2 separate regions of the Homo sapiens genome follow, and region 2 is linked to region 1. The links come from fine-mapping of genetic effects on gene expression. A gene starts in region 1. The other region holds a variant in brackets. All regions are shown on one strand. Distances are between the middles of the regions. Region 1 holds the start of TRAM1 (translocation associated membrane protein 1). Region 2 has its middle 320 kb from the start of XKR9.

Evidence for each region. PIP is the estimated chance that this variant, and not a neighbour inherited with it, causes the effect.
Region 2: its variant is fine-mapped to the expression of TRAM1 in whole blood (TOPMed, PIP 0.94).

What each region holds. Positions count from the first base shown.
Region 1 is chr8:70,607,073-70,609,986 of GRCh38, forward strand. It overlaps TRAM1 (translocation associated membrane protein 1), which reads right to left and starts at 1,344. Exons shown (of 11, transcript NM_014294.6): 1 at 1,005-1,344. The coding sequence starts at 1,127. LACTB2-AS1 (LACTB2 antisense RNA 1) reads left to right here and starts at 1,505. Exons shown (of 4, transcript NR_038881.1): 1 at 1,505-1,761. RefSeq lists silencers at 391-840, 861-1,040, 1,091-1,150, 1,211-1,260, 1,341-1,510.
Region 2 is chr8:70,982,975-70,985,888 of GRCh38, forward strand. It overlaps a transcript of XKR9 not described here. Among named protein-coding and RNA genes, the nearest start is that of XKR9, 320 kb to the left of the region's middle. The variant G/A (reference allele first, on the strand shown) is at 1,610.

The DNA of each region.
Region 1 (2,914 bases):
ATTTGTATATTTACTGAGACATAAAGGCTCCAGAGAAAAATTAAAAAGGGAAAAAAGCAAAGGAATGAGCGTGTGTATTGGGGAGCGAGGGGAAAAACGTAGGATGTTACTCGTTCACCTTGCAAAGTTTATCATCCACATTCAACAGCTGTTAAATAAGTCATCAAAATACTAGATACGTGGGAAGAGAATTTACACACTCCTGACATTCCCATCCTCTCCTACTTCAAGAAACAAAATTACTCGATTCCTTGGCACCGCTGTTCAGAACCTCGATTTATCCATCAGACCTTGTTTCTTTAAAGCGTCAGGGCAAAAAGTTCGTTAACTGGTAATAATATCAGTTTAAAAGACAAAAATGAAAACAATCTGGCGCGCCTCCACTGCGCCGGTGCCCGGCGGCCACCGCCCTTCAAGTCGAAAGCAGATGCCTGACTCCGGTTTCTCGCTCACCCCAATCTCGGAGCTACCGGGGGCTCCCCTGTCACTCGGGGCCTGTGGTCTCCAGGCCGGCACTCCTCAGACCCGGGGGCCGGGCCTCGGCCTTCCCCGGCCCTCGCGGGGCTGACGCTCACCGCGGCCGAGGCTGGCAGTCCCCCCAAGTCCGCCCACCCGCCCCGAGCCAGCTCGGCAGCGCAGGGGCCGCCCCCGCCCGCAGGCCCCTCGCCGGCTGCCACGTAACCCTTCGCGGGAACCAGGAACTGCGCCGCGCAGCCTGCGGGAGGGGGCGGCGGCGGGTCAGGAAGGGGGCGACGCGGCGGTCCCCACCCCCTGCGGGCCGCGATGAGGCCCACCGGGACTTTGCATCTCCGGGCCGGCCGCCGGGGAGCTGCCGCCGACGTGGGGCAGGGCAGGGAAGGCCTGCACCTCAGGGACTGGGGGTCTGCACCCACCCCGGGCCCGAGCCCCCCGCGTCCTGGGCGGAGAAGCCGGGGCTGGCATCTGGAGCCCGGGCCCGGGCTGGAGGTGGCGGGGCAGGCGGTTGGGACTCGGGGCGGGCTCACCTCAAACATGAGCCCCAGCAGGAAGACCATCGCCACACAGGAGACGATGTCCGCGTGATTCTGCAGGACGAATTCGTGGCTCAGCACTGGGGGGCTCTTGGTGCTTTTCTTGCGAATCGCCATGGTGGGGCCGCCGCCCGCGCCTGCAGGTGCTCCGCCCCGGTTCTGCTCTTCCCAGCTGCTCACCGACTCGCCGCCGCCTCCCGCTGGCTGCTCCTCACGGCCCCGCTGCAGCCGCTCGCTGGGGCTTCACTTCCCATCCCACAGCCAGTACGCAGCCGCCGGGCCGCCCGGGGGAAAAAAAAAAACACAACAGCTAGCCCGCAGCGGGGGCGAGCATGCGCACCAGGGAGACGACGCTCCCTGGTGCCGCGGCCGCCTCCGCGAGCCCACAGCGCCACCTGGGGACCGGAGGCCGCTGGCCCGCGGCCGGGCGAGCGTGCAGGAATGTGAGCGGCGCTTCCCTGCTTCGCGCCGGGCCCGGGTTTGGGAGTCGTTTGAGGCGCGAGCTTCCTGCGCCTGCTCAGCAGCCTGAGGCCGCGGCCGGGTGCCCTCCTGCCCTCCTGGCCATCCAGGGATTGGGTGTCAGTGGCCTGTTGCACATTGTCACTTCTACAAGTGACTAACACCGTCAGGATAATCTAAAACTACGAATACTACCTGACTCCACAAGGGTACGGTGTATTCTCCAGTTTTAGCATCTGCCTTAAAAATTACCTCAGAGTTAAGCACTGCTGGGGACTTATTTCTACTCTTGGTAAGTTTGGACTAACTTAAAAAAAAAAAAAGAGCTGACCCTATTCTGGTCTGCCTCTCCGTCCCCACCCCCATCCCCGTCCCCATCCCCACCCCTATCCCCCACTGGCCTCAGACTGAAGACGAAGGGATCAGTTTGGGTTTACTGGCTTCACATATATTCAAATTAACAACATGTTTTAGTAATCTAAGGGAAATAGTAAAAGAGTTAAAAAGGATCGTGGATTAAGACACGTCCTCCTCTTATCGTTTTGCCCAAACCTGGAGTCCTTTGTATTCTTTTTCCTGAAGAATTGCTCTCCTGTTTACCCATAAGCCAAATGTAGAAACCAAAGTCATGCTAGATTGAGCCCTTTCAGCGCCCTTCCACATCCAGTCATCACCAATTCGAGGCAGACCTATCACCCCGCTTCCCCACTACCGCAGTCCGAGGGTACTTGCCTCTTGCCTACAATATTACAACTCTGGTGTAACCACTTAGTGGTTTAAGAATGTGGGTTGTTAAATCAGAATTCTGCCACTTATTACTTGTACGATCAAGGACAAGTTACTTAATCTCTATGGGACCCGATTTCCTCATTTTTAAAAATGTATTCATTTATGTACTTACTGAGGGTTGACTGTGTCCTGGGCACTGGGGATACAGAACTGAAATACAAATTAAATTATTCCTAGGGACTTATCATTCTAGTGTGGGAGAGAATCTTTAAACAAGATTTCAAAAGCGAAACAGATGTTAAATTGAGTTGAGCAACCAGGAGAAAAATAAAGCAAGGGGAATAGGAAAGTGCGAGGCACTTATACTTGCCTGAAGACCTGCAGGAGGTGAGGGAGCAAGCCCTGTGGATATCATCTATAAAGTGGGGATAACTATTGCTCATTTTAGTGATTAAATGAGATGATTGAAGGAAACTGCTTAGCGGGGAGTAAGGGCTTTATAAATTTAGTCAGGGATTATTCTTTTCCTCCTTCTGGGCAATCACTAGTTTCATTTCCCTTCAGATCACCTTTCAACGTTTATACTAGAATGATGCTTCTACTGGCAGAAAGTTTTTCAGCGGGTTCCCTTTCCCTTCATGGAAAGCTAGCATGATGAAATAGCCCTTTCTGATTTGGTCCTTGCCTACCCCAACAGACTGGAGCCCTGCATCTAC
Region 2 (2,914 bases), 380 kb after region 1:
TTGTCAGCTGTCACTCATGTGTCATCCATTGTTGTTACATCCAAGAGCTACTGTCACCCCTTCTAGTTTAAATTCTCAAATATGAAGTGGTGGCCCTTTGAGTCAGATAGCAAAGTTTAGATTACAGTGTATCAGTAAACTATGAGAGAATTCTCATCTCGAATGCACAATTGAGTTAAATGACCCACAAGGACTTCAGTGATTACTTCTTCAAGACTTGGTAAATAGCATTCTTTCCCCTTTTCTGGACTAGTCCTTGTTCTTCCTCATTGCCTGACTATTCCTATTTGTTCTTTTGATCTTAGCCATGTCATCTGGGGGACCTTCTGGGACTCCTCTGCTAGATCTCCTTTCCATTCATAACCGTCTGAACTTCCTGTATCACCACTTGACGCAGCCTGTTACCATAATTTCTTATTAAATGTCTGTGTTTCCTGGCAGACTCCATGCAGGCTGGCACTGTGCTCATTAAGCTCTCCCCAGCATCAGCACATAGTGTTTTGCCCATGGTGGATGCTTTATCAGGCCGGGCACAGTGGCTAATGCCTGTAATCCCAGCACTTTGGGAGGCTGAGGCGGGTGGATCATCTGAGGTCAGGAGTTCAAGACCAGCCTGGCTAACATGGTGAAACCTCGTCTCTACTAAAAATACAAAAATTAGCTGGGCATGGTGGCAGGTGCCTGTAATCCCAGCTACTCAGGAGGCTGAGGCAGGAGAATCGCTTGAACCCGGGAAGTGGAGGTTGCAGTGAGCCAAGATCGCACCATCGCAATCTGGCCTGGGGGACAAGGGCAAGACTTCATCTCAAAATAAATAAATAAATAAATAAATAAATAAATAAAATAAAAAATAAAATAAATGCTTTATAAATATCTGTTTAATAAATCAATTGAACTTTTGCTATTTAAGTCGAAGCGAATGTAATTTCTAGCTCACTAGGCCACATGGCTATGGCCAGAATAACCATTCAGGGCCTGAATAACAATCATGATGGAAACAAAATAATGATACCTTTAAGAGGAGCTTACGCTACAAACTTTGGTATGCAAGAAACATCACCTTAAATTATATATATGAAATTATCTTTATTTTTTGAGTTGCTAGCAGTAGGACATTAAAACTCAGTCACTATGGGGGTGTCTTTCCTTTTTCTGGGTGTTCACGAGTCTGGAAAGCTTATGTGATTGGTACCTAGAGAAATGAGAAGTGCCTGTAATCTTCAGTCCATCATTGTTGCCACTGCTATTCTAATTGTTCAGACCCACTGCCTCAGAGGTAGGCAATTCTGCTGTCTGCAGGTCAAGGGGGGCCCAGGGGAATTTCCCTGGCCTGGACCCATGATGCCATCACAATGATCACCTCTGAAGTCTTACTGCATCTTGTGGGTTCTGATCATCTCTGTTCTCTTCCCTATCCTGTGTAATCTCTCCCTTTCTCTTACTTCTCTTGAAGCCACTTGCTTTCTCCTTTCTTTCCTTGCTGGATGTCCCAAGTTGTTCTGGGAAATAAAGACTCAGTAAAACATAAGCCAGCAACTATATTTGACTCTAAGCAGTTTCTGCTATCTATGCTGCAACACAAATGCCTCTAGTGAGAAGATGCCCAAAG[G/A]CCTAGCTATTTGTTTTAAATGGGCAAAGGGAAAAAAGGTAAAACAAAATCTCTATAAATTATAGAAAAATTATCCTGTACTTAGTGTTGACCTCATTTGCCCCCTGACAGAATCACTGGTATAGCAAGTAGGGCCATTCTATTCATTAAGTACCTGAGGTACAATGTGGGAATTACCAAGGACTTAAGCCTGTGAAAATGTTGAGAACTAAAAAAATATTAATTGGCTTTAAAATAAGAATTATAAAACTGTAAAACTGAAATTATTAGGAAGTTTAATGGAAAGTCTGTAAAATGTAACATCATGTCATCTTCATTAATTGCTAAATTTAGAATCCATAATAACTTATTACATTTAAAGACAATTTATATGTTAGACTTTTCTCACTTCTCAAGATTTCCCAAGTATTCATAATGATTGCTAAGAAGGTATAACTAATAATAAATTAAATGAGTTATTTATAGTTAGTTATAGATAATTTTCCAAAAACAAAATTATAAAAAGCCCTTTGATTTTTACAAAGCAAAATGATATTTAATATGAAAACATTTTAATATGTTTGATATGTTGTGGGAGGAAATCCCTGAATTTCTAAAATTTGGCATGTGATGTTCCCCTCCTTGTGTCCATGTATTCTCATTGTTTAGCTCCCACTTATGAGTGAGAACATGCAGTGTTTAGTTTTCTGTTCCTGTGTTAATTTGCTGAGGATAATGGTTTCCAGCCTCATTCATGTCCCTGCAAAGGACATGAACTCATTCCTTGTTATGGCTGCATAGTATTCCATGGTGTATATGTGCCACATTTTCTTTATCCAGTCTATCATTGATGGGCATTTGGGTTGGTTCCAATCTTTGCTATTAAGACACATGCACAAGCTGGTGAATCTTAGGTGACATCATCACAATGCACTTTAGATTGCATCTAAGTTTTTATTATCATAAACAAGGCTGAAATGGACAATCTTTGTACATGTATTTGAGCAATGTTTCTGGCATTTCTGAGAATAATTCTATTTTCAAGAAGTGATCATAACTTCTAAGGCATATGCTACCTGAGGAAAATAATTATCTCTTTTTCTTTCTTCCTTTTTCACCCTCCTACCCTCAATTTTTTCTTTCTAAATAGCTTTTCTGAAGAGAATTAAAAATAAAAACAAGAACAAATATGGTAAATTTTTTTTTTTAGGCAATCATTTTATTCCTTTGCTGAAAACTCTACTTTAAAGAGCACGCACAAATATTATGTAAGATAAGAGATAAAAATAATGGAAGTAATCTATAATTCTTCTAATAAACATAATT